Homo sapiens: one gene and its partners. The protein of the gene in region 1 interacts with the protein of each later gene in a biochemical or structural test. Each region holds a gene or a part of one and is shown on either strand. Other genes may lie near its edges. The genes, in order: ENG, RTF1, PRRC2B and CTTN.

Region 1 (3,500 bases):
CCAGTTCCTGAGCAACCCCCACTTAGCAGGAGCCGGCCTAGCGCTGTGCAGGTGTAATTTACTGGCCTGCTTGCCGACTCCATGGGAAGCTGTTATGATGACCCTCATCCCCATGTTACAGATGAGAACACTGAGGATGGAAAGGCAGCTGGCAGGTGGAAGAATCAGGACCTGAACCTTTGGCATCTGTCAAATCGCTGTGCTTTTCACCTCTACTGTAGGCTGCAGTGCAGGAACTTGACCCTGCAGGCATCGTAGAACCAGGGGGGAGCCCGGGGCCAAGGCATGCTGAGACCTCCTGGTGGCTGGGGGCAGTGGCTGGGCTGGATGCTGGGAAACCTGTGAGGCTGTAATTGGGCCTGAAAAGGGTAAAGAGTGGCCCGGGGGTACTGAACAAGACGGGGCAGGCATTGCAGCAAGAAGGACCCTTGTTGAAACGTATCTTCCTTGGGAGGCTGAGATGGGTGGATTGCTTGAGCCCAGGAGTTTGAGACCAGCCTGCGCAATACGGCGAAACCCCGTCTCTACAAAAAATACAAAAATTAGCTGAGTGTGGTGGTCCACTTGTAGTTACTCAGGAGGCTGAGGCATGAGAATCGCTTGAACCTGGGACGGGGAGGTTATAGTGAGCCGAGATCGAGACACTGTACTCTGGCCTGGGTGACAGAGTGAGACTCTATCTCAGAAAAGAAAAGGGGGGGTGGCAGCGGGAAGAAAAGTATCTGTCCTAGTATGATGAAATAATATTCACAGCTTCTGTGTCTGGGGCACCTACTTAGTACCAGGCACTCAACAGGGGTTACCCCATCAAACTGACACACTCAGCCTGTGAATGCCTGCTGCTTGCTGGAGCCAGACTGTCTGGGTTTAAATCCAGGCCGTGACACTTAGTAGCTGGGTCACCTCGGGCAGCTGGTCTTCAGTTTCTTTAACCGCCCTGGTCTTCAGTTTCCTGGAGTGTGCATGGGTGTAATAGCGCCGCCCACCTCACAAGGCTGCTGTGAGGATCAAATGAGTTCACTCGTGTAAAGCTGCCTAGGCTCCCAGTAAGCATGATGGGAGCATCTGCAGTGATTATTGGTGGTCTGCAAATGGGGAAACTGAGGCTCAGAGAGGTTAGGCTTCTGCTCAAGGTGACCAGCATTTTAAGAGGCAGAGCTGGGATTTGATCCAGGCCATCTGGCTCCAGAGCTGTTTTTCTTGATCATCCTCCAAGGTGCTGAAGGTAGCCCTCTGGAAATCTGGGAGGTGCTGTGTGCACATGGGTGGCGAGGGTGGAGAGGGGACAGTGGTGGGAGGTGGCTTCTGGGTCTCTCACTTGGGGTTCCAGTCACCCAGGCCCCCAGCGGCTCCTCCTCTGACCCAGTCCCGGGAGGCCCTGGCGTTTCCCTTGGTGCCAGGGGATTGTTTTCAACTTGGTCTGGGCCCGCCTCAGGCTCCGGGAGACAGGCCCAGGCGTCACACTCCCTCCTGTCTCCCCATTCTCGTCTGCGGGGTGGGGGCGGCCAGGATTCGAAAAGGCCCCAAAATAAATGGACCTCTTATCTGATCTCCCCGCCAGGCCTGTTATCTGATCATTACATAATGGCCAGGCTTGTGGCCTCTCCCGCTGGCTGACGGCATGGAGGAGGCGGCCCCAGGCGGCCCCAGCAATCCGGGAGGAACTGGGGTTCCTGGAAGTCTGGGGAGGGGGCAGGGAAAGTCCCAAAGGGAAGGAGGGAGGCGCTGCGATAATCTGCAGGCCAGACACTGGGTCATGTTGGGAGACGCGGGTCCGAGGCCCGGCCTGGTCAACCATGTGCTGTGAGACTTTGACCTGTCCCGTCCCTCCAGACCTCAGTCTCCCCATCTGAGTAGGAGGGGCTTAAGCTAGGTAACAGCCAAGGAACCTGCGCTCACCGATGAGGAAAGGAGAGGGTGGGGAGAACATGGGGGCTGGTGGGTCAGAGGGACTGGAGACAGGAGATGGCACCAGCCCTTGATTTTGTTGGGGTGAGGGAGATCCCAGTGACCTCTCCATCCCAGAGGACCGTCACCTGGAGGCCACCCCATCCCGCCACTTCACCCCACCCCTTAGAACAGTCAATTCTACAGTGACTGAAGTCAGTCAAATAATTGTAATTAAGAGAAAGCTGCCGGCCAGGCATGCTGGCTCACTCATGGTGGCTCACACCTGTAATCCTAGCACTTTGGGAGGCTGAGGCGGGAGGACTGCTTGAGCTCAGGAGTTTGAGACCAGCCTGAGCAACATAGTGAGACCCAGTCTCTACTGAAAATTTAAAAAATTAGCCAGGCGTGGTGGCGCACAACTGTAGTCCCAACTACTTGGGAGGCTGAGGCAGGAGGATCGCTTGAACCCAGCAGCTCAAGGCTGCAGTGAGCTGTTATCACACCACTGCACTCCAGCCCAGGAGACAGAGGGCAACCTTGTCTGAAAAATAAACAAATAGAAATTTAAGAAAGAATTGCCATGTGCCCAGTCTCATGGAGTCCTCCCAGCCACCTCTGTGGATCATGTGGGCTCTGTTGTCATTTTATAGACCAGGTATTGAAGCCCCAAGAGGTGAAATCATTCACCAGAGCCACATAGCTGGTAAGCATTGGGCCTGAGAGGCAAACCAGGTCAGCCTGGCTCCAGGGAGCTTGCTTTTAACCAAAATGCCACTATGTCCAGGCACTCCAGAGTCCCTGGGACATGTAGGATAGGGTCAGAGAGACGACATATAAGGCCTGGGCCCCCGTGGCAGCCAGAAGTCCTCATCCAGATCTTCTCCTTCCCAAGACAGAGCTGGGAATGGCGTTGCCATGGCAAGGGGTGACCATCTCACTTCCTTTGCTGACTTCTGGGGCCCAGAGCCCAACGTGCTGTGGGAAGGTGAGGAAGGAGGCCGGTGAGGCTCCAGACAGCCCAGGGTTCAGAAGAAGCCTCCCTGCCCCCTCCTCTGAGCCGGCCTTGGCTGGACATGAAGCCAGTCTCTCCGCGCCCATCTTTGATCTCCAAGAAAACAGGAAGTGAGCGCGACAAGATGGAGACACAAACTTCCAAACAGTCTCCCCTTCTGTCCTCCTTCCCTCCTCCGGAGCCCCCTTCCCCCGGCACATTCCTCAGGACGAGGTGTAGGAGCCTCATTTCCTTTTCCGACCCTGCTGGGTCAGGGTGAAATTCCATTCCTTTCCCTCAGGACCTGTGTTTCCGGGCTCTGCGGTCTGCTCTGGCAGCCTCCAAACCTGGGCCGCCTTCTCGGCTCGCCCTGTCCCTTGGGGCTAGGGAACTCTCAACCCCTTCAGACCATTCCTCCCACCACCTTGAGGCAAGAGAGGGGAAGCTTTGTCTCCTGAGCTCAGCTCCTGCCTTACCTGGAGGGAGACTTGGGTTCACACCTAGGCCCTGCCATGAAGTTAGGGTTGCCAGATACATCAAATGAAAATCAGCCGGGTGTGGTGGCTCATGCCTGTAATCCCAACACTTTGGGAGGCCGAGGTGGGAGGATCTCTTGAGT
Region 2 (7,968 bases), on another chromosome or scaffold:
GTAATCCCAGCACTTTGGGAGGCCGAGGTGGGCGGATCACCTGAGGTTGGGAGTTTGAGACCAGCCTGACCAACATGGAGAAACCTCGTCTCTACTAAAAATACAAAATTAGCCAGGCATGGTGGTGCTTGCCTGTAATCCCAGTTACTCAGAAGGCTGAGGCAGGAGAATCACTTGAACCCAGGAGGTGGAGGCTGTGGTGAGCCGAGATCGTGCCATTGCACTCCAGCCTGGGAAACAAGAGTGAAACTCTGTATTAAAAAAAAAAAAAAAAGAATTTAAAAATTAGCTGGGCATGGTGGCGTGCCTCTAGTCTCAGCTACTTGGGAGTCTGGGGTGGGAGGATTGCTTGAGCCTGGGAGGTTGAAGTTGCAGTTACTTGTGGTCCCACCGTTTCTCTTCAGCCCAGGTAACAGAGTGAGACCCTGTCCCAAAGAAAAAAAAAAAAAAGGCACTTGTATAACTAAAAGAACTTGACAGGGAGGTTTTAAGATGGCAAAACTACTGGTTCTTTTTTTTTTTTTTTTTAGGCAGGGTTTCACTCCTGTCACCCAGGCTGGAGTGCAGTGGCACAATTACAGCTCACGGCTGTAGCGTTGACCTCCCTAGCTCAGTGATCCTTCCCCCTCAGCCTCTCAAGTAGCTGGGACTACAGGTGTGCACCACCACACCCAGCTAATTTTTAAAATCATTTGTAGAGATGGGGGTCCCACTACATTGCCTAGGCTAGTCTGAAACTCCTGGGCTTGGGTGATTCTCAGGCTTTGGCCTCCCAAAGTGCTGGAATTACAGGTGTGAGCTGCCACACCAGGCCTTATTTATTTATTTGTTTGTTTGTTTATTTATTTATTTTTGAGATGGAGTCTCACTCTATCGCCCAGACTGGAGTACAATAGCACGATCTCGACTCACTGCACCTTCCACCTCCTGGGTTCAAGCAATTCTCCTGCCTCAGCCTCCTGGGTAGCTGAGATTACAGGCGCCTGCCACCACACCTGGCTAATTTTTTGTATTTTCAGTAGAGACGCTATGTTGGCCAGACTGGTCTCTAACTCCTGGCCTCAGGTGATCCAGCACCTGGCCTTATTTTAACCTTTGAAAGTTTTTAAAACTAAGACCTAGTTTGAGAGTTTGAAAGCTTTTCTTTTAGCATTTGACCTGATAGTGACTCTGTCCTTATTTTGACCACACCCTTTCTTCAACATTTTTAAATTTCAAGATACTTGCTGTTGGTGCCTATTGGGAAATAATAATTTGAGGCAAACCTCTGGGCTCTATGTCATCTCCCTTTATGGAATAATATTTATGCAGTAAGTCCTATAAAATGAAAAGCATTCAAGATAATAAAGGAACCAGAGTTCTCAATTCAAATCAGTACAACTCCGTATTTATAAAAATTTTACTCTACCTTTCTAAAAAACTAAAAATTGAGCTATGTGCACACTGGGATGCTTTATTTTATAGGTTTCTTATTTAAAATGGAGATTATATTGTCATGTCCTGTTTTTCTCTGTTTATCTAACTTGAAGTAGCAATAATTAAATTTGTCTTTGAGAGAATAGGCCCCCCTAAGTATTTTCTTTTTTCTTTTTTTTGAGACGGAGTCTCGCTCTGTCACCCAGGCTGGAGTGCAGTGGCGCGATCTTGGCTCCTGCAGCCTCCGCCTCCCGGGTTCAAACAATTCTCTGCCTCAGCCTTCCGAGTAGCTTGGATTACAGGCGCACGCCACCACGTCCAGCTAATTTTTGTATTTTTAGTAGAGACGGGGTTTCACCATCTTGGCCAGGCTGGTCTTGAACTCCTGACCTCGTGATCCACCCTCCTCGGCCTCCCAAAGTGTTGGGATTACAGGCGTGAACCACCGTGCCCGGCCAGCCCTGTAAGTATTTTCTAGGAGCTGTTTTTAGATACTACATGTAAAGAATATTATTATTATAAAGTATACTTCTATAAACCTTCCCCATAAATCTTGAGAAATTTAAAAGTTGTGCTTCTTGTTAATGTAGTGTTTTCCGCATTAATCAGAGGCAAATTTTGAAGTGTAGGAAGAGTTTGTGAGAAGTGTCAGTGTTAATTTGTGAAAACTTTAATTTGTGTCATGTTGCATCTAGCTTGATGTAATTCGCTTGTTAATTTCACTCTTTTCAAAGAGTGAGTCCCATGGGAGCTCCCTCCCCACCCAGCCCCCACCCAAGATGGAGTCTTGCTCTGTCACCCAGGCTGGAGAGCAATGGCACGCTGGGCTCACTGTAGCCTCCGCCTCTAGGTTCAAGTGATTCTCCTGCCTTAGCCTCCCGAGTAGCTGGGATGACAGGCACGCGCCACCACTCCCGGCTAATTTTACATTTTTATTAGAGATGGGGTTTCTCCATGTTGGTCAGTCTGGTCTCAAACTCCCGACCTCAGATGATCCACCCACCTCGGCCTCCCAAAGTGCTGGGATTACAGGGGTGAGCCACCACGCCCAGCCCTGGGAGCTTTAACAGTGAGGCTTTTAGGAAAAATACAAAACTGATCTTCAGACACAGGTCATATTGGTGTATTTATTTTTATTTATTTATTTATTTATTTTGAGATGGAGTCTCACTTTGTTGCCCAGGCTGGAGTGCAGTGGGACGATCTCAGCTCACTGCCACCTCCGCTTCCCGGGTTCAAGCAATTATCCTGCCTCAGCCTCCCAAGTAGCTGGGATTACAGGTATGCACCACCATGCCCGACTAATTTTTGTATTTTTAGTAGAGATGGGGTTTCACCATGTTGGCCAGGCTGGTCTCAAACTCCTGACCTCAAGTGATCCGCCCTCCTTGGCTTCCCCAGGGTGCTGGGATTTCAGGCATGAGCCACCGCATCCGGCCTGATTGTTCATCGTTCAACAGATGTATTAGACAGCGTTAGACACTAGAGCTATTGGGTGAACAAAATGGAAGCAGTTTCCACCTTCAAGGAGTGTAAAGTGGAATGAGAGAGAGATGAGGTGGGGAGATTGCTCAGAGAGAGTAATTTCCTTACAATTGCACTACAGGCCATGAAGCAAGGACAAGAATACTGTGGAAATATTAACCAGGGACCCTATTCTAGCCTGATGAGAGTGACATTGAAACAGACCTGGAATATGTGTTAAGGAGAAGCAGATTAGAAGACTGAAGAGTAAAGGGAAGAGTGTTGAATGTTCATGGTTGAGGCACCAGCATATATAAAAGAAATGAGACAGGAAGGACCTCGAACCCTTATGAAACTGAAAGAAGCACAGAGTGAGTAACATAAACTAGTTGCATAGTTGGAGAGAGAATAGTACAAATGAAACTGTAGAGGTAGATTCTGTTTTGACCCTTTGAGGATGGAGAAGTCAGTTTACGGACTACACTCAGCAGTAAAAATAAAATTGAATTGATAGAAAACATCAAATGTGTCATACATAGTAAATATAAGTGATGAAATTTGTGTGTCTCATATGTACATGTAGATGTATACTGGGTTGTGAGGTATAATTTATCTTCCTGTGGGCTGCGTTAAAAAGAGAAAAGTTTTTTGGCCAGGCGCAGTGGCTCACGCCTTTAATCCCAGCACTTTGGGAGGCCGAGGTGGGTGGATCATATGAGGCCAGGAGTTCGACCAGGCGGGCCAACATGGCGAAACCCCATCTCTAGTAAAAATACAAAAATTAGCCAAGTGCGGTGGCACACACCTGTAGTCCCAGCCACTGGTGAGGCTGAGGCATGAGAATCCCTTGAACCTAGGAGGCGGAGGTTGCAGTGAGCCGAGATCACCACTGTATTAGCCTGGGTGACAGAGAGACTCCGTCTAAAAAAAACAAAAGAAAAAAAGAAAAAAATTTAAAGCCACTGGAGGGCGTCAGCCTCCCCGGTGGCTGGGACTGCAAGTGTGTGCCACCACACTTGGCTAATTTTTGTTTTTTATTTTTGAGACGGAGTCTCGCTCTTTTGCCCAGGCCGGACTGCAGTGGCGCTGTCTCTGCCACTGCAAGCTTCGCCTCCCGGGTTCATACCATTCTCCTGCCTCAGCCTCCCGAGTAGCTGGGACTATAGGCGCCTGCCACTGTGTCCGGCTAATTTTTTTTTTGTATTTTTAGTAGGCACGGGTTTCACCATGTTAGCCAGGATGGTCTTGATCTCCTGACCTCATGATCTGCCCGCCTCGGCCTCCCAAAGTGTGCTGGGATTACAGGTGTGAGCCACCGCGCCTGGCCAATTTTTGTATTTTTAGTAGAGACTTTGGAGTTTATTCTGAGAGTAATAGGAAGCCATTGAAGGATTTTAAGTTGGAGAAGATTTTCAGATTTGCCTTACCCAGACTATTGTGGAGAGTAATATGGAGGGGGACACTAATGAAGTGGCAGAGAGAGGAGTCCAGATGAGAGATGATGGAGAACATAAGTTCCATTAGAATGGAAGCGCCAGGAGGGTAACCGTATGTGTTCACTATGCTGTCCCTGGCATCTAGAGCAGTGCCTATATGCAGTTGGCACCCAGTCAGTATTTATTAAATGAAGGACTGACTTGGATTGATATGGTTGTTATAGAGATGACAGATAGTGGAATTGGTTGGACATGATGTTCAGTATGTAGAACTAAAAGGCCTTGAAGACTGAGGACTGATTAGATGTTAGGATGAGAAGAGGAGTATTTAGGATTGATGCCAGGCACTGGCATGAGATGGGGAGTGCTGGAGGAGCAGGTTTAGAGGTGAAGATCCTGCATTCAGTCTGGGATATGTGGAGTTCGAAGTGACTATGAGATGTCTAAGTGGAGACATCAAGTAGGTAGTTGAAAATAACACTTGAGGGCCAGGCACAATGGCTCATGCCTGTAATCCCAGCACTTTGGGAGGCTGAGGTGGGAGGATTGCTTGAGCTCAGGAGTTTGAGATCAGCCTAGGCAACATGATGATGAAACCTGATCTCTACAAAAAAAAAAAATTTTTTTTGGAGGTGGAGTCTCGCTCTGTTGCCTAGGCTGGAGTGCAGTGACACCATCTTGGCTCACTGCAACCTCCGCCCTGGGTTCAAGCGATTCTCGTGCCTCAGCCTCCTGAGTAGCTGGGATTACAGGCACATGCCACCATGCCCAGCTAATTTTTTTGATTGTTTGTTTTTATTTTTTTTTTTGGGATAGAGTCTCGCTCTGTCGCCCAGGGTGGAGTGCAGTGGCACGATCTCTGCTCACTGCAACCTCCCCCTCCTGGATTCAAGCGATTCTTCTGCCTCAGCCTCCCGAGTAGCTGGGACTACAGGCGTGCGCCACCATGCCTGACTAATTTTTTGTATTTTTAGTAGAGACAGGGTTTCACCATATTGGCCAGGCTGATCTCGAACTCCAGACGTCATGATCTGCCCACCTCGGCTTCCCGAACTGCTAGGATTACAAGCGTGAGCCACTGTGCCTGGCCATTTTTTTGTATTTTTAGTAGAGATGGGGTTTTTCCATGTTGGCCAGGCTGGTCTCGAACTCCTGACCTCAGGTGATCCACCCCGCCCCCCCCCCCCCCCGCCCCCCCCCCCCGCCGGCCTCCTGAAGTGTTGGGATTACAGGCGTGAGTCTACTGTGCCCAGCCGCTACATATATATGTGTGTGTGTGTGTGTGTGTGTGTGTGTGTGTGTGTGTGTGTGTAATTTTTGTTTGTTTGTTTGTTTGTTTGTTTTTTAGGCAGAGTCTCACTCTGTTGCCCAGGCTGGAGCGCAATGGTGTGATCTCGGCTCACTGCAACCTCCACCTCCCAGGTTCAAGCAATTCTCCTGCCTCAGCCTGCCAAGCAGCTGGGATTACAGGGGCCCACCACCACGCCCAGCTAATTTTTGTATTTTTAGTAGAGATAGGGTTTCACCATGTTGGCCAGGCTGGTCTTGAACTCCTGACCTCGTGATCCACCCACCTTGGCCTCCCAAAGTGCTGGGACTACAGGCATGAGCCACCATGCCTGGTCTACAAATTTTTTTTTTTTTTTTTTTTTTTTGAGACAGAGTCTTGCTCTGTTGCCCAGGCCGGAGTGCAGTGGTGCGATCTCGGCTCACTGCAAGCTCCGCCTCCCGGGTTCACGCCATTCTCCTGCCTCAGCCTCCTGAGTAGCTGGGACTACAGGCACCCGCCACCATGCCCGGCTAATTTTTTGTATTTTTAGTAGAGACGGGGTTTCACCGTGTTAGCCAGGATGGTCTGGATCTCCTGACCTCGTGATCCACCCACCCTGGCCTCCCAAAGTGCTGGGATTACAGGCGTGAGCCACTGCGCCCGGCCCTACAAAATTTTTAAAAAATTAGCTGAGTGTGGTGGCATGCGCCTGTGGTCCCAGCTATTCATTCAAAATAAAAGCTACATAAGCTGGGTGTAGTGGTGTGTGCCTGTAGTCCCAGCTACCCAGGAGGCTGAGATAGGAGGATCACCTGAGCTTAGGAGGTTGAGGCTGCAGAGAGCCATGATCACACAACTGCACTCCAGCCTGGGTGACAGTGAGACCCTGACTCAAATAATAATAACAGTAATAATAATTATGCCGATGCTCGCCTGACAGAGTAGGCACTTAATAAATTTTTGTTGAATAAGCAGATGCTACTTGGCATACCTATGGTGTCAAGTTTTATTTTTTTTTGAAATGGAGTTTTGCTCTTTGTTGCCCAGGCTGGAGTGCAGTGGGGCAATCTCAGCTCACTGCAACCTCCGCCTCCCGGGTTCAAGTGATTCTCCTGTCTTAGCTTCCCAAGTAGCTGGGATTACAAGTGTCCGCCACCACACCTGGCTAATTTTTGTATTTTTAGTAGAGACGGGGTTTCACCATGCTGGCTAGGCTGGTCTTGATCTCCTGACCTCAGGTGATCTGCCTGGCTTGGCCTCCCAAAGTGCTGGGATTACAGGCATGAGCCACCATGCCTGGCCGCCTTCTTTTTTTTTTAATTTTATTTTTAGAGCTGGGGTCTCACTGTGTCACCCAAGCTACATGGTGGGACATTTTCTAACTTGGTTACATTGAGATTACTTGAAGAGATAAAGGACACTGTCACTTTGGGGGTTCTTGTTCCAACCCCTCTACTGCAATACTGATATCCCTTTTTTTTTTTTTTTTTTTTTTTTTTTTGAGATGGAGTCTCGCTTTGTTGCCCAGGCTGGAGTGCAATGACGTGATCTCAGCTCACTGCAAGCTCTGCCTCCTGGGTTCACACCATTCTCCCGCCTCAGCCTCCCGAGTAGCTGGGACTACAGGTGCCCGCCACTACACCCGGCTAATTTTTTTGTATTTTTAGTAGAGACGGGGTTTCACTGTGTTAGCCAGGATGGTCTCGATCTCCTGACCTTGTGATCCGCCCACCTCAGCCTCCCAAAGTGCTGGGATTACAAGTGTGAGCTACCGTGTCCGGCCCCCTACTCCTTTTTTTTTTTTTGAAGACAGGGTCTCACTCTGTTACCCAAGCTGAAGTGCAGTGACGTGGTCATGGATCACTCTAGCTTTGACCTCCTGGCTTCAAGTGATCCTCCCTCCTCTGCCTCTGGAGTAGCTGGGATCACAGGTGTGTGCCACCATGCCCAGCTAATTTATTTATTTATTTTGAGACAGAGTCTTGCTCTGTTGCCCAGGCTGGAGTGCAGTGGTGTGATCTCAGCTCACTGCAACCTCTCTGCCTCCTGGGCCCAACCAGTTCTCCCACAGCCTCCTGTGTAGCTGGGATTACAAGCATATGCCACCACATCTGCCTACTTTTTGTATTTTTAGTAGAGACGGGGTTTCGTCATGTTGGCCAGGCTGGTCTCAAACTCCTGACCTCAAGTAATCTGCCCATCTTGGCCTCCCAAAGTGCTGGGATTACAGGCGTGAGCCACCACTCCTGGCCACAGCGAATTGATTTTTAATTTTTTGTAGAGACAGGGTCTCCCTGTGTTGCCCATGCTGGTCTCAAATTCCTGGGCTCAAGGGATCCTTCCTCCTACCTTGGCCTCCCAAAGTACTGGGATTACAGGCCA
Region 3 (7,968 bases), 3.6 Mb from region 1:
GTGAGACGTAAGGTGAAGGAGAAGTCCCGGGGTCCTCAAATCCTGGGCACAGGGCAGGCGGGTGGGGGCTTCACAAGGCAGGTGGGGTCCAGAGCATGGGTCTTGGCTCATTTCTGTGGAAGTAAACAGAGTTAGCCCTGCCACCCCCATAGCCCCAGACTCTTCACGGCCTCCCAGGCTCCAGCTTGCTCTTGCTCTTTGACCCGGAGGATTGCCTGGCTCCTCTGTCTCCAGGGGGCACACCGTACCCAGCCTGCGGCCACGACAGTCTTCACTCTCAAGGACTCCAGGGGCCACCGACCAATTCATGGCCTGGCATTTCTGAGACGTGTTTAAAGATAGAACAAATGTTGATGCTTATGTTTTTTTTTGGTTGTTGTTTTTTGTTTTGTTTTTCTAGCTTTCTTTTTAAAAAGTGTTTTAGTTTTTGTTTTTGTTTTTTCTTTTTAAAACTAAGCTCTGTGTTCAGCATGGAAACCAGGAACCAGGCTCCAATCGCATTGACTGATTTTTCTGGTTCCTTTTCAGGAATGAAAGCTCTTTCTCTGCCTCACTCGGAAGGGCAGGGGGCGTAAGTGCTCAGCGCGATCTCTTTGAGGAGAGAGGGGAGGAGTACTTGAGTGCTTTTGACAAGAAGGCCCAAGCAGACTTTGACAGCTGTATCTCTTCTCAAAGAATAGGCCAGGAGCTTTTGTTTCCACCCCAAGAAAATGTTCAGGATGCAGGTGCTCCTGGGGGTCACACCCAAAACCTCAGGTGTTCCCCATTGGAGCCTGACTTTGTCCCAGATGAGAAAAAGCCAGAGTGTGGCAGTTGGGATGTTAGCCACCAGCCAGAGACCGCTGACACAGCCCATGGTGTTGAGCGGGAGACACCCCGGGAGGGGACGGCCTTTAACATCTCCTCCTGGGACAAGAACGGGAGCCCCAACAAACAGCCATCCTCGGAGCCTGAATGGACTCCCGAGCCCCGGAGCTCCAGCAGCCAGCACCCGGAGCAGACGGGCAGGACCCGGAGGTCGGGACCCATCAAGAAACCAGTCCTGAAAGCCCTCAAGGTGGAAGACAAGGAGAAGGAGCTTGAGAAGATTAAGCAGGAGCTAGGGGAGGAGAGTACCCGGCTGGCCAAGGAGAAGGAGCAGAGCCCCACGGCAGAAAAGGATGAGGACGAAGAGAACGATGCCTCTCTGGCCAACTCCTCCACCACCACTTTGGAGGACAAAGGCCCTGGCCATGCCACTTTTGGCCGCGAGGCCACCAAATTTGAAGAGGAGGAGAAACCTGACAAGGCCTGGGAAGCCAGACCCCCACGAGAGTCCAGCGATGTTCCCCCCATGAAGAGAAATAACTGGATCTTTATTGATGAGGAGCAAGCCTTTGGGGTCAGAGGACAGGCCCGGGGCCGGGGCCGTGGTTTCAGAGAGTTCACTTTTCGTGGTCGGCCTGCTGGCGGAAATGGGAGCGGCCTCTGTGGTGGGGGGGTCCTGGGGGCCCGCAGCATCTACTGCAGCAGTCAGCGCAGCGGCCGTGGCCGGGGCCTGCGAGAGTTTGCGCGGCCAGAGGACTGCCCCAGAGCCAAGCCCCGACGGAGAGTTGCCAGTGAGACCCATAGCGAGGGCTCAGAGTATGAAGAACTTCCCAAGCGCCGCCGGCAGAGGGGCTCCGAGAACGGGAATGAAGGCTCGCTCCTGGAGAGGGAGGAGAGCACCTTGAAGAAGGGCGACTGCAGAGATTCTTGGCGGTCCAACAAGGGGTGCTCTGAGGACCACAGCGGTCTAGATGCCAAGAGCCGAGGCCCTCGGGCCTTTGGGCGAGCCCTCCCTCCCCGGCTGAGCAATTGCGGGTATGGACGGAGAACCTTCGTCTCCAAAGAGTCACCCCACTGGCAGAGCAAAAGTCCAGGCAGCTCTTGGCAGGAATATGGCCCTTCCGACACATGCGGATCCCGGCGACCTACAGACAGAGACTATGTCCCAGATTCCTACAGACACCCTGACGCATTTGGTGGCCGGGGCTTTGAGGACAGCCGCGCGGAGGACAAGAGATCCTTCTTCCAAGATGAACACGTGGCAGATTCTGAAAATGCAGAGAACCGGCCCTTCAGGAGAAGGCGCCCCCCACGCCAAGATAAGCCCCCTCGATTCCGGCGCCTCCGGCAAGAGCGGGAGTCCCTGGGCCTGTGGGGACCCGAGGAGGAGCCCCACCTGCTGGCAGGTCAGTGGCCAGGCAGGCCCAAACTGTGTTCTGGGGACAAGAGTGGCACTGTGGGCCGCAGGTCCCCTGAGCTCTCCTACCAGAACTCCTCCGATCACGCCAATGAGGAGTGGGAGACGGCCTCCGAAAGCAGCGACTTCAGCGAGCGGCGGGAGCGGCGGGAAGGCCCTGGGTCCGAGCCCGACTCCCAGGTGGATGGTGGCCTGTCGGGGGCTAGTTTGGGTGAGAAGAAGGAGCTGGCCAAGAGGAGCTTCTCCAGTCAGAGACCCGTGGTTGACAGACAGAGCCGAAAGCTGGAGCCGGGAGGGTTTGGGGAGAAGCCCGTTAGGCCAGGTGGTGGTGACACCTCCCCTCGCTATGAGAGCCAACAGAATGGGACGCCTTTGAAAGTGAAAAGGTAAAACCAGACACCATCTGGGCCCTTTTTGTTGTTGTGTTCTGTTCTCAGCAGCACTGAGTTCACGCATGCATGCCGATGCCGCCGTGTGTCGGGGCTGGGGGCCTGCCCCCAGGCCGTCTGTGCGCGTCTCCATTGCCTGCCCCCACATTGCCTGTCTGCTTCTCGTGGTGGTGTTATTGTGGCTAGAGCTCCCACCCCCACCCCCACCCCAGTGGTGCTCTTGAGGCCACTGTCCAGCACCTGACCTGAGAGTCCAGTCATGTGTCCCTGGAGCCCCGCCGAGGGGCCGCTGCAGCGAGGAACGTTGCCTGTGCACAGTGCCAGGTGCCGGTCAGTCCACCAGAGTCCTCTGCTCCGGAGTTGCTGCCAGGCGGCGTCCTAGGGGGCATCGCTGGCCTCGTGGCTGCATGGAAGTGGCTCTTCCTAGATGGTTCTGCTTCTCCACTGTGAGGAGACGTGGCCCCACGGTGGGGTTGCCACCTCAGCATGGCAGGAGCCCAGCAAACGCAGAGGGGAGCAGGCTGCACATGGTCTGGCGAGCACCTCTTCCACAGCCAGAGGCATTCGGGTGATGACCTCTGCTCAGGGACCAGGAGAGGGTCCCCTGCACAGTCTGGGTTGACTGACTGCACTTGGCTTGTGCCTCGGACAGGGAGGTGCAGGGGCTGCTGAGGCCTTCCCTGTCCTCAGCATACTGAGGAAGATGGCTTCACACCTCCACTCTCCTTAGAATTCAAGGCAGAGAAACTCCCAGAGAAGGAGCCACAGGGAACACCGACTCTTTCAGGTGGCATCTAATCCAGCTTTCCAGGCGCCAGAGGCTGACCCTTGGCTTCACCTCAGTTTTCTGCCCCAAGGGCCCTCCGGCAGGGCAGTCCTGGAGAGGAGCAGAAATGCTGGCGTCTCCATTCTGAGCATATTCCCCTTGTCTCTCTCCCCCCTACACTCTGAACATAGCATGTGGGAGAGCCCTGGGGAGCCACTTTCCCCAGGAGCAGGCAGAGCCGGTGGGGGCAGCCTTACACGTATGTTTGCACACGGACATGGATGCACTGTGGCCAGCCTGCCGCTCCTCCCCACCCGAGGAGTCAGCTAGAGGAAGTGGGCCTAGATCAGGGTGCCGGGCTTGTGTGCAGGCTGTGTGCACGTGCGGTGTTTTCCCTCCTTCCCCAGCTCTGGTTAACAAGATCCTCTTTCCCTTACAGATCCCCAGACGAGGCCTTGCCTGGAGGTCTTAGTGGCTGCAGCAGTGGGAGTGGCCACTCCCCCTATGCCCTGGAGCGGGCAGCCCATGCCAGTGCTGACCTTCCCGAAGCCTCCAGTAAAAAGGCAGAGAAGGAGGCCAAGTTGGCTGCTCCGAGGGCAGGTGAACAGGGAGAGGCCATGAAACAGTTTGACCTGAACTATGGAAGTAAGTCATCCTCATATCTTCAGGGGAAAGAACTCAGGCAGAACCAGGGGCCATGCAGTCCTCGGGCCTCCCGAGTTTGCCCTTGCACTGAGTACCTTAGCTTTCGGAACAGCTCGGCCAGGCCCTGGGCTGGGTTCTGGGGCTGTAGAGGTGAGCAGAGTAGGTAGGATTCCCACCGAGTGTTGCTCACAGCCCGTTGAATCCCCGTGACACCCTGCAGCTTCCGGGCTTTAAAGAGAGGAAGCCTGGGGCCCAGAGACGTTCGGTGGTGTGTCCGAGGTCACACACAGCTGTAGGAGCAGAGCTGGGGTTTAAGCTCTTTGCGTGTTCTCTCAGTTGTGCCCTTGGGCCTCTTTGGTTTGGGGTAACAATGTGTTAGATCAGAGGCGGCCTGAGAAAAGTGCGGAAGTCCTGTCCAGGTTTCTGTCGAGCCTGATGCTAGATCTCAGGCGCCTGTTGAATTGGGTTGTTCTTGTCTCCTGGTGAGTGGAAAGACTGTTCCTTCTCGTGAAATCTTGGTTCAGGTGCCATCATTGAAAATTGCGGGTCCAGCCCCGGGGAGGAGAGTGAGGTGGGTTCTATGGTGGGCGAAGGCTTCATCGAAGTCCTGACCAAGAAGCAGCGCCGCCTGCTGGAGGAAGAGAGAAGAAAGAAGGAGCAGGCCGTGCAGGTGAGGGGCGGAGGGTGGGGGGGCATGGGGCTGGAGGGCAGGCTGGCAGATGCCCAGGAAACCCAGAGCCAGAGGGTAAGGGAGTTCTCGGTCAAGCTCAAGGTGGCAGAGAGGAAGAAAGGAGTATTTAGCAAGCACACATTGTCTCCCCGTTCCTGCTATTACCAAGGCCCTTCTATCAATGTAGGAATAGGTGGTGGCATCACTGTTATGCAGTGGAAGAAACCGAGTCTTGAAGAGGGTGACTTCTCTAGGGTGATAACAGTGGAAACTTGTCCAAGGCAAGATGCAGACCTCCGTCACCTCCCAGCTTCTCCTTCCTCCCCACTCCTCATTCCTGAGTGGAATGAGATTTGTCTCCCTCAAGTCAAGTGGATCGTGAACGCTATACTAAAATGGAGTCAGGGCTGGACCTGCACACAGATTACAGTCCGTTGGCCTTTCAGGTCTTTCTTGGGGGGTGCTTTGCTTGGCATCGCAGTTCTGCTTGAGGTTTTGGGAGACGAGCGTTCCACACATCTCTGGAGCATTTTCAGGTGGTGTGATTTTTGGTACCTGGGATACTTATCCTGGGGAGAATTTGTCAGTCTTGGTGCCTTTGGCTAGACTACAGCATCCTTTCTTCCCCTCAGGTGCCTGTCAAAGGTCGAGGCCTTTCCTCCCGTATTCCTCCTCGATTTGCAAAAAAGCAGAACAACTTATGTCTGGAGCAAGGTGACGTGACCGTGCCTGGCAGCAGCCTGGGCACTGAGATCTGGGAGAGCAGCAGCCAGGGTGAGAGTTGGGGGTGTGACCCCAGCTGTGGCACCCAAGGTCACATCACACACTGGGTTTGCTTCTGGGGAGGATCCTGCTTTTGAGCTACGAATATAGATGGAATACAGATGGAGTACCTGTTTGCTGTGTTCCGCTGCTGAGCTAGTCGCTGAATGCCGTCTGAGTGATTTGCTGCTGCAACCCCCAAACGGATACACAATTTTCCTTGCCTAAAATTGGTAGAAGAGCAGAGCATTCATTAGTCTGGTGATCTGGAAAAGGATGGCCCCTTGGGCTTAGATCACACAGTAGTGGGAATGGCCTTCTTTGTTGGTCGTCGTTTTCTCCCACTAACTTATGGAAGAGAAGCAAATGACAGATAGACCAGCCGCAAGAGTTCAGGAGCTCTCTTCTGTGCTGTGCACCCTTTTCTTAACATGGGGAAGGCTCTGGAAACCCCTCCCTGAATGCTCTTCTGGAAAGGCAAACTGAGACCAGAAGACGGTATACGTTACTTCTTAGAACATTTGTTGCCCTGAAAACTTTTTTTTTTTAATTCTATATCAAATGTAATTTTTCTGGGAATTTTTCCTTATAAAATAGAAAACTATTTTCATAGAATAGGTTCTTCTTGAGGTTTAGGTGAGGCAGGGCCCTGCGCTGTTAGCCCAGAGCATGCATAGATGAATAAAAACATGGACATTCGATATTTCACAGCTCAGGCCCATGAGGGGAGCTTGGAGAGGTCACCTAGTGCCAGCTCATTTTTCTGCAAAGCAGCTGAAGCTTCTAGAGGGAAGGGACTTGACTCAGGGACTCCAGGGTCATAGGACAAGCACCCGAGACACTGAGTTCTGGGCCTTGATTCTTTCACTGTTTCCACATAGCTTGTCCTCATGTGCTCGGTGAAAACTTTGGTTCTTGCAAACTACAAAATAACATTCAACATGCCCAGCTTTGATGGAAAGGAAGCACAACCATTTGATAAAACATCAATAACACTACATTTGGTAGTGGCTGAGTGACAGGTGTCATAGTATTGGTGTCCAAAAATGCCCAGGTGCCAGATTGGTTGAGCTGCCAGGTGTGAATCAGATGTGACTCTCAGGTGTGAGTCATCATCCCCTTTTGTCAGATCTTTTACTCCAGAATTCTGCAGGGGCTCATTGGTTTCTCAGACCAGGGGTTGTGTCCAAGGGATGGCTTCAGAGAGCCCTTGGATATTAAAATAGCATGTGAAAGGATTTTTTTTTTTTTTAAAGATGGGGTCTCACTATGTTGCCCAGGCTGGACTTGAACCCCTGGGTTCAAGCAATCCTTCTGCCTCAGCCTCCTGAGTAGCTGGGATTGCAGATATGTGCCCCCACCCCCTGCTAGCATGTCAACTTTTGCATGCATATCTATTTTTCTGGGCTCCGGATCCATGGCCATTCAAAAAGTGGTCTGTGAGCTTAAAAATTTTTAGTAATACCCGCTGGGATCTTTCAAAGACTCTGTAGAAGCCACCAACTTTGGCCAGGAGTGGTGGCTCACACCTATAATCCCAGCAGTTTGGGAGGCCAAGGCTTGAAGATCACTTGAGATCAGGAGTTCAAGACCAGCAACAGAGTGAGACCCTGTCTCTATTGTTTAAAAAAAAAAGAAGGCCAGGCCTGGTGGCTCACGTCTGTAATCCCACCACTTTGGGAGGCTGAGGCAGGCAGATCACCAGGTCAGGAGATCGAGACCATCCTGGCTAACATGGTGAAACCCCGTCGCTCCTAAAAATACAACAACAACAAAAAATTAGCCGGGCGTGGTGGCGGGCACCTATAGTCCCAGCTATTCGGGAGGCTGAGGCAGGAGAATGGCGTGAACCCGGGAGGCAGAGCTTGGCAGTGAGTGGAGATCGCGCCACTGCACTCCAGCCTGGGCGACAGAGCAAGACTCCGTCTCCAAAAAAAAAAAAAAAAAAAAAGAAAGATATATTTTTTAATGTAAAAAAAGAGAAGCTACCAACTTTTAGAAATAGTATAAGTGAAAAGAAGCATGAGCATAGCGGAAATAACGACAGAGAATCCAGATTGGCAGGAGTGAGGGCTCTGCCCTGCTCACTCTCTCCTGTAATCCATGAGATGTTGAGAAACACGTTGGGTGAGGATGTGGAAAGTTGGGTAAGGCTGTCAGACCAGCTCTTCCACGTCAGAGCCGTTCACTGGGTGTCACGGGTAGGGGGCTGGGGTGGCGGGTGCAGGGGAGGCAGGGGAGTTGGATTTCTGCAAGCTGTGCCTGTGCTTGTTCTTTAAGAGCTCATAAACTCTCTAGACGGGTTGCTCTTTGATGCCCTGACTCTGTCTTCCTCCCCTGGCAGCTCTCCCTGTGCAGGCCCCAGCCAACGACTCCTGGAGGAAAGCTGTCACTGCCTTCAGCAGCACCGAGACTGGCTCTGCGGAGGTGAGTGTGGCCGCTGCCCACATGCTGCCCCTGGGATGAGTGTGTGAGTGTGTGCTCACCATCCACACGGCCAGCTTGCTGTGGC
Region 4 (7,968 bases), on another chromosome or scaffold:
TGGCAGCCAGCGCTGCGTGTGCGGTGATGAGCCATGTCTCCCGTCTTCAGCCTCGTAGAGACGCGGGCTCCACACTGCCTGCTCCTGCGCGTGGCCTGTGGTCAGGGGTGGCAGGGTCAGTCCTTGCCTCGCAGCTGACCACACAGCACCATCCAGGGGCGTAGGCAGGCAGAGCAGGTGTTCGGGCTGGGCTCCCCAGGGAGCAGTAGCCTGGGCTCATTTCTGAGGGCAGGCGCGAGTTCACCAGGAGAGAAGGCTCAGGAGACCACGGAGGGGCGAGGTGTGGGCCTGGGTGGGACAGGAGTCACTGCAGGTTCTCAAGGAGCCTAGCTGCAGAGGGAGGGTGGGGAGCGGGGATAGAGCTGGCCCTGGAGAGCCCCACACACCACAGAGCATTCTGCATGTCGTGACATGCGTCACACACCACAGAGCATCTGACGTGCGTGGCCCCAGAAAGGTTAGCAGGCAAGGAACACTGGGGGGGTCTACTTTGAGAAGCCCCCGGCCTCAGCGTGGAGTCTGGGTTGTGGGGGTTGGCCTGGGCAGAGGGGTGTGGTCCTGAAGAGAGCTGGAGGGGCTCGGGTGGTGGAGAAGCAGGGCATGGTGTTTGGCGCCAAGGGACGCAGGGGAGGGAGCAGTCGGGTGGATGTGGGGTGGACGTGGGGCCAACTGTGGAGCCGAAGAACTGGGAGGAGCAGATGTGGGTGTCAGCGAGAGAGAGCTGGGGTAGGGCCGGGGCCGGGTCCGGGTGGCGTGCAGAGTTGGGAGGGGAGTAGGCACGCGGTCAGAGGACACTGGGCAGGGGGACCCAGTGAGGTAGCAGGGGCCTTGCAAGGCACTGGGACAGACGGAGGGAAGGAGCTCCCCTGTGGGTGAGTCAGAGGTTGTGGCTTTGAGGCCGGAACCTGAGGGACTGCCTGTGTTGTGGGTGTCTGTGGTCAGCATTGCTGGTGTTGGCGGTGACCGCTGAGCTTGTGAGCACGTGAGGAGGCAGTGTGTGGGTGTGGCCTTTCGTGTCATTGTCTTTCATCCAGGAGGGGGTGGAGCTTCTCTCTCTGTTTGCTGTGTGATGGAGGAGTCCAAGGCTTAGAGAGGGTGACGTAACTGCCCGGGTCCCCATACATTGTGGGGATAGGGCTACAACCCAGGCTGGGAGGTGAAGTTGCCCCCTCAGGGCAAGGTGATGTCTGCAGAGGGCCCAGTGGGTGATGGGACCCAGTAAGGCTGATGGCCTTGCCTTTGAACAGGTGCAAGCAGCTCAAGGGACATGGAGTAGACGCTGGAGCTGACTGATGGGAGGAGGGAGCGGGGTCCGAGGAAGGACAGGCGGGCCAGGAAGGGGGCAAGCAGGAGGTGCTGGGCAGAAAGGGGCCATGGTATGGGGGCTCTGGTGGCTTCTGAGCCTCAGGTGTTCTCATCAGAGGTAGTGAAACCCACAGTGAAACTGGGTACGGCCACTGGTCTCCATGAGCCCTGACAGTCTCCACCTGAGTCAGCACGTAAGAGTCATCGCCGTCGCTTGGTCAGACCATAGTTGAGTCCCCTGCAATGCAGAAAGGTGTGATTGCACCACTGGGTAGTGTGTAGGACGGGCCACTGGAGGCTTGCATGTGTCCCCAGCGTCTTCGCTTCCTGTAAATGCTCACACCTCTGGGTGGCGACGGAGGGTGGGGAAGGCTTGAGGCTGATCCCAGAATTGGTTTGTGGTAGAGCAGATGGAGATACATGCATTTCTTATGCTAATGCTGACCCACGATTGCCTGCAAATGTGGTTGGTAATAGTTTTCATGCCTCAGTTAGTTTGCAAAACCGAGAGGCCATGAAGAGTGCTCTGGGCTGTGTGGCTGGGCCTTTGGGAAGATCTGGGGAAGGCATTTGCATCTGGCAGGAGCTACCACAGGGCATGGAGAAAAGAGAAAAGTGCTCTCCTGACGCCCATGTCCTGTCTCTGCAGAATGCGTCAACCTTTGAGGATGTCACCCAGGTGTCCTCTGCCTACCAGAAGACAGTACCTGTCGAAGCTGGTGAGTCCCGGCTGATACCAGGAGCACCGTGTGGTTTCCCAGGAAAACACTGAGGGGAAGGACAGTTGTGAAACAGCCAGGAGCAGATGCACCACTAGTTGAAAGCGTGGTTGTTGCTGCGTATTTTTGGGAAAGAAAATGATCGTTCTGATGAAGATCTTGTTTCTCCTGCAGAGGTTTAGAGTCACCTTTTAGACGCAGCATGGTGCAGCCGTTTCAGTGGGGCCCGTTTCAAGGGGCTCTTCCCAGAGCAAAGGGGCTAAGTGCACATTCACAAGGGCCTCCACACTGCCAGTGACCAGCTTCTGGGAGCAGCTGGGGCCTGCCCAACTCCCTGAGCCGCTCGGTCGCAGCTGTGACAGGAGGAAGACATCATGACGTCGATGTGCAGGCGACAGCAGACATTCTCTCTGCTGCTCGTTCTTGGGCCCTTGACAGGGAGCTCGAAACCTGTCCTTTTCTGTGCTGGACACACGATGGAGTCAGATGTGGGCCCTGCCCCGGAGAGTCAAGTAGTTGGGGAAAATGTTATACATACATGAGAGCAAGTGCTAAATTTAACACAGGATGCAGAGAGCCACCACTGACTTCCTTCAGGGGCTATGGACCCACAGTTCTCAGAGATTGAGGGCCCAGGACGCTTTGACACTTTGACCACTCGTGAGAACCCCCAAGATGTTGATGTATTTGATGACATTGACTATATTAGAAATTAGAGGAATGTGGCCCGGCACAGTGGCTCATGCCTGTAATCCCAGCACTTTGGGAGGCCAAGACGGGCGGATCACGAGGTCAGGAGATCGAGACCATCCTGGCTAACACGATGAAACCCCGTCTCTACTAAAAATACAAAAACAAAATTAGCCAGGCATGGTGGCGGGCGCCTGTAGTCCCAGCTACTCGGGAGGCTGAGACAGGAGAATGGCGTGAACCCAGGAGGCGGAGCTTGCAGTGAGCGGAGTTTGCGCCACTGCACTCCAGCCTGGATGACAGAGCGAGACTCCGTCTCAAAAAAAAAAAAAAAAGAGAGAGAGGAATGGTTTATTTATTTATTTATTTTGAGACCGGGTCTTGCTGTGTCATCCAGGCAGGACTGCTGCCTCAGTCTCCTGGGCTCAAGCAGTCCTCTTGCCTCAGCCTCTGGAGTAGCTGGAACTATAAGCGCATGCCCCCTGCCCAGTTAAATTTTTTTTTTTTTTGAGACAGAGTATCACTTTGTCGCCCAGGCTGGAGTGCAGTGGCGCGGACTCGGCTCACTGCAAGCTCCGCCTCCCATCCCGGGTTCACGGCATTCTCCTGCCTCAAGCCTCCGGAGTAGCTGGGACTACAGGCGCCTGCCACCACGCCCGGCTAATTTTTTTGTTGTTGTTGCTATTTTTTAGTAGAGACGGGGTTTCACCGTGTTAGCCAGGATGGTCTCGATCTCCTGACCTCATGATCTGCCCGCCTCGGCCTCCCAAAGTGCTGGGATTACAGGCATGAGCCACTGTGCCCGGCCAAATTTTTTTATCTTTAGTAGAGATGAGGTCTCACTGTGTTGCCCAGGCTGGTCTTGAATTCCTGAGCTCAAGTGATCCACCTGCCTCGGCCTCTCAAAGTGCTGGGATTACAGGCATGAGCGACATTGGAAAGTTATTAATTGGTTCACTTAAAAAGAATAAACCTTGGCCGGGTGTGGTGGCTCATACCTGTAATCCCAGCACTCTGGGAGGCCGAGGTGGGTGGATCACCTGAGGTCAGGAGTTTGAGACCAGACTGGCCAACATGGTGAAACCCTGTCTCTACTAAAGATACAAAAAGTAGCTGGGCATGGTGGTCCACGCCTGTAATCCCAGCTACTCAGAAGACTGAGGTACGAGAATTGCTTGAACCTGGAGGCAGAGGTCGCAGTGAGCCTTGATTGCGCCACTGCACTCCAGCCTGGGCGACAACAGCTAAACTCCATCTCAAAAAATAAAAATAATAATATAACTGGCCATGCACAGTGGCTCATTCCTGTAATCCCAGCACTTAGTGAGAAGACCGGCATTGTTTTGTTTTGTAAATCTCTTTAATAGAAGATGGCTGCACTCTCACATCTGCCTCTGCAGTCTATCGATGTTACGTTGTTTAGGAAGAACATGTGGAATCACCTAGGTAGGCGATTGGGAAAGGGAGGAGTGTTTGTAACCTTGAGGGCAGCGTGGGTGTCCTTCTGCGACGCCGCCCAAGCGTGCCAGGCAGTGGTGGTCCTGCAGGCCGGCTCCTCTGGCCCTGTGAGGGACTCGCTACCCACTGTGCTTGGGCAGCACTGTGTGTTGGTCATTTGGAAAATGCTGGGTCTCTGAGTTGTGCTCGTCTTCCAGTTGTGGACACTTCTCATTCCACAATACCAAAAAAAATCACATTTGCTGTCATCATCTATTTCATCTGCAGAAGCTGAGTGGAAATCAGCATGTTCATGTGGCAGCCTCACATTTTTCAAAATTCTGTCTTTTACTTGAAAGCTGGAATTTTCCCGTTGGCAACAAATACTCCAGTAATTTTTCTTGACACAATAGGCTTAGTTCATTCACTTGGGAGAAAACTGTTGCCAGATACCCAGCTTTGCATAACCATAGTTGGACTGTCAGTTGTTATTTCAGGGAAAAACGCTATTCCATGAGAAAACAGTCAACTTGCAGCTCTCATGGTTCTATTCATGGTCCTTGAGACACAGACAGCCACCGCCACAGTCCCGGACACAGCAGGGAAGGCTCATGTGTCTTCCCACTTTTTTTTTTTTTTTTTTTTTTTTTTTTTTTGAGACAGAGTCTCGCTCTGTCGCGAGACTGGAGTGCAGTGGCACAATCTCGGCTCACTGCAACCCCTGCCTCCCAGGTTCAAGCGATTCTCCTGCCTCAGCCTCCCGAGTAGCTGGGATTACAGGTGCCTGCCACCAAGCCCAGCTAATTTTTCTATTTTTAGTAGAGACAGGGTTTCACCATGTTGGCCAGGATGGTCTTGATCTCTTGACCTCGTGATCCGCCCACCTTAGCCTCCCAAAGTGCTGGAATTACAGGTGTGAGCCACCATGCCCGGCCATATTCCCCACTTTTGACTTAAATTTTTATCATTTTTTCTTAATAGACACGGGGTCTCACTGTCTTTCCCAGGCTGGTCTCAAACTCCTGATCTCAGTCTTCCCGTCTCAACCTCCCAAAGTGCTGGGATTACAGGCATGAGCCACTGCCCTCTTTTCCATTTTTGTCACACACAATATAAAAAAATGTATACTCTGGTTGAGATTTACTATACTCAGTATACGTCAATTACAGTATACATCAGTACCTTAACTGCTTTATCAAGGACAGATGTCTTTAAGGGAAATTGGCTGTTTTTATTTAAAAAGGTGAGTGTGGTGGTGAAGATACCGTCTTATTTAGAGATCTTCCTGATGCCAGGCTTAGGGGGATTGCCAGTCCCACCAGGTACGCAGTGCCCTGCGGCAGGTGCCCAGTGCTGGCTCCGGACCAGTGGGCTGAGCTGGCAGCTGCAAGAACCTTTCCCTCCTTGGGGGTTAGGGGGATGACCGGTTCCTGGGGAGGTCACTCTGTGTGGGTGGGGCTGTTGTCCAGGAGCAGTGTTTTTGCTGTGCTCAAGGCACACGTCCTCCCTCCTTCCTCTATAGTGACCAGCAAAACAAGTAACATCAGAGCTAACTTTGAAAACCTCGCTAAGGAGAAAGAGCAGGAGGACAGGCGGAAGGCGGAGGCGGAGAGAGCCCAGCGGATGGCCAAGGAGCGGCAGGAGCAGGAAGAGGCCAGGAGGAAGCTGGAGGTGAGTGGCAAGGAGTGGGCCGCAGCGCACCCTCCCTGGGACCTGTGCCGAGGGGATTGGGAGCTCTGGGGCCTGGGCGGGGCTTATTCTCTCCTGGCCAGGTTTTCCTTGGAAGGCATGTTTAACTCTCCTTTAAGGCTCTCCATTAAGGCACTTGTCACTTGCAGCCACACATAGGCTGAGTCTCTGGCCACAATGCTCCAGGCAGCCGGCTAGCGCTATCCTGGTCTTGCCGGTCCAGCCCCAGGACCCGCCAACCTGCCCTGCCCTCTGTCCCTGAGCTGACGGCAGAGTCTTGTCGGCTTCCACCTCCACGGGGCTCCTGTCCAAATGTCAGCCTGAGTCTCTTCTCACCCCTCCCCCTCTGGAAGCCCCTCCTTTCCCAGGTGGAAGTTTGGGGTTTGGAGGGGACTCTGTGCAGAGGCAGCCTGCTCTCGGGGCCTGCTTCTGCTTGGCCAGCCCAGCCCCGCTCACCCAAGCCCCTGGGCTGTGGAGAAGCGCTCCCAGAGAAAGATGCCAGAAGTGCACCCCTGGCAGGGGCGGAGCACGAGCCTGTGTCTGGGTGCTTTGGGTCTAGCCTGGGTGGCTTGCCACTGACAAGGACTTTCCTTGTGCTCAGCTGGATCAGGGGGGTTGTGAATAGAGCCTGAGGCCTACAGATGTGTGTGTGTGAAGTTACCAGGTGTGGTTCTGCAGCTGGGGCATCTGCAGTGTGGGGCAGGCCCAGCCTGTCTGGAAGCCTGGGCTTCTCCTATCCACCCCAGGCCCTGCCCCTGCAGGGCCACACAGGACGTGCTACTTTGGGTGTTTAACCTGTGGATGGCATCAGGTGACGTGGGAATTTACAACTGTCCTGTTGGGGTCAAGCAAGGCCATAGATGCCAGGAACCGTGCTAGGGTCTCAAGACCAGGGGTGGTTTTCTCTTCAAAAAGACAAGACAGCACTACCATTGTTCCCGTTAGAGCAAGGCCGCCTGCAGAGGGAGAGGAGGGAAGGGGTTTGGAGTGGACACCTGGGGTTCAGATCCTGCCTGGGCAGCTCCCTGGCCAGTGTGCCTGTGCCTGCCACCTCACCCTCAGACTCAGCGTCTGGCACTGGAGCCCACAGGCTGTCAGTGAGTTTCCTGTTGCTGCCGTAGTCACCACCACACACAGCACACAGCTAGTGTCTTATAGCTCTGGAGGTCAGAGGTCCTCAAAGATGTCAGCAGGGCTGTGTTCCTCCTGGTGGCCCCTCGGCCCTGTCTTCCCATCTCCAGCCTCTGCTTTTGTTGTCACCGCCCCTCCTCTGTCCCTCACACTCCTGCCTCCCTCCTCTCAGGACCTTGTGATTACATTGGGTCCACCCAGGCAGTCCAGAGTTCTCCCCATCACAGAACCCTTAGTTTCATCACATACACAGTCCCTCCCCATGGGGTCTGGGGACTGCGATGTCAGCAGCTTTGAGGGGCTATTATCCTACCCCAGTTCATCCTTTGGCCCCTAAAGCTTCATGTCCATCCCATGTGCAAACATACTCAGCCCATTTTAAGGTCCCCAAAGTCTCAACCCATTGCAGCATCAACTCAGACTCCCAAATCTGTGCCTAAACTATCTAATCGTGTGTGGGCGAGAATGAGCTGTGGCCCAGTCCCGGCACTGTCGCGTCACTGGCTGTGTGATCTCGGCCTCAGAGCACACCTGCCCCTCGAATCCTGCCTAGGTGCTGGTGGGATCTGAGGCTTGGTGCTCCAGCTCCCCTGCCCCTCGGATCCTGCCTGGGTGCTGGTGGGATCTGAGACTTGGTGCTCCAGCTCCCCTGCCCCTCGGATCCTGCTGGGGTGCTGGTGGGATCTGAGGCTTGGTGCTCCAGCTCAGCCTTGGTGTGGGTGTTTTCCACTCCTTTCCCCAGAGCATGCCTAGAGCTTGCACACGATCTTCTGAAACACGGCAGGCGTGACAGTGCAGAGTGTCATGGCAGCATTCTGATTGCTGTTTGTTTTCAATCACAGGAGCAAGCCAGAGCCAAAACGCAAACGCCCCCTGTGTCGCCCGCACCTCAGCCAACCGAGGAGAGGCTGCCCTCGAGCCCCGTCTATGAGGTTGGTGTCTTTGGTGTTTGAATGAGCGTGAGTGACTTACTGCCAGAGCCCAGGTCCTGTTTGTG

Evidence for each region.
Region 2: the proteins of ENG (region 1) and RTF1 interact on a protein array, tested with the Homo sapiens proteins (one large-scale study listed by IntAct).
Region 3: the proteins of ENG (region 1) and PRRC2B interact on a protein array, tested with the Homo sapiens proteins (one large-scale study listed by IntAct).
Region 4: the proteins of ENG (region 1) and CTTN interact on a protein array, tested with the Homo sapiens proteins (one large-scale study listed by IntAct).

The regions. Positions count from the first base shown.
Region 1 is NC_000009.12:127,844,659-127,848,158, reverse strand, and holds part of ENG (endoglin isoform 1 precursor), read left to right. Parts: intron 1-1,023; exon of another isoform or gene 1,024-1,216; intron 1,217-3,500. UniProt on the Homo sapiens protein: Vascular endothelium glycoprotein that plays an important role in the regulation of angiogenesis. Required for normal structure and integrity of adult vasculature. Regulates the migration of vascular endothelial cells.
Region 2 is NC_000015.10:41,421,199-41,429,166, forward strand, and holds part of RTF1 (RNA polymerase-associated protein RTF1 homolog), read left to right. Parts: intron 1-7,968. UniProt on the Homo sapiens protein: Component of the PAF1 complex (PAF1C) which has multiple functions during transcription by RNA polymerase II and is implicated in regulation of development and maintenance of embryonic stem cell pluripotency.
Region 3 is NC_000009.12:131,473,926-131,481,893, forward strand, and holds part of PRRC2B (protein PRRC2B), read left to right. Parts: intron 1-528; coding exon 529-2,610; intron 2,611-3,818; coding exon 3,819-4,024; intron 4,025-4,548; coding exon 4,549-4,694; intron 4,695-5,326; coding exon 5,327-5,468; intron 5,469-7,800; coding exon 7,801-7,883; intron 7,884-7,968.
Region 4 is NC_000011.10:70,423,378-70,431,345, forward strand, and holds part of CTTN (src substrate cortactin), read left to right. Parts: intron 1-1,954; coding exon 1,955-2,024; intron 2,025-2,319; coding exon of another isoform or gene 2,320-2,402; exon of another isoform or gene 2,403-2,710; intron 2,711-5,673; coding exon 5,674-5,822; intron 5,823-7,813; coding exon 7,814-7,903; intron 7,904-7,968.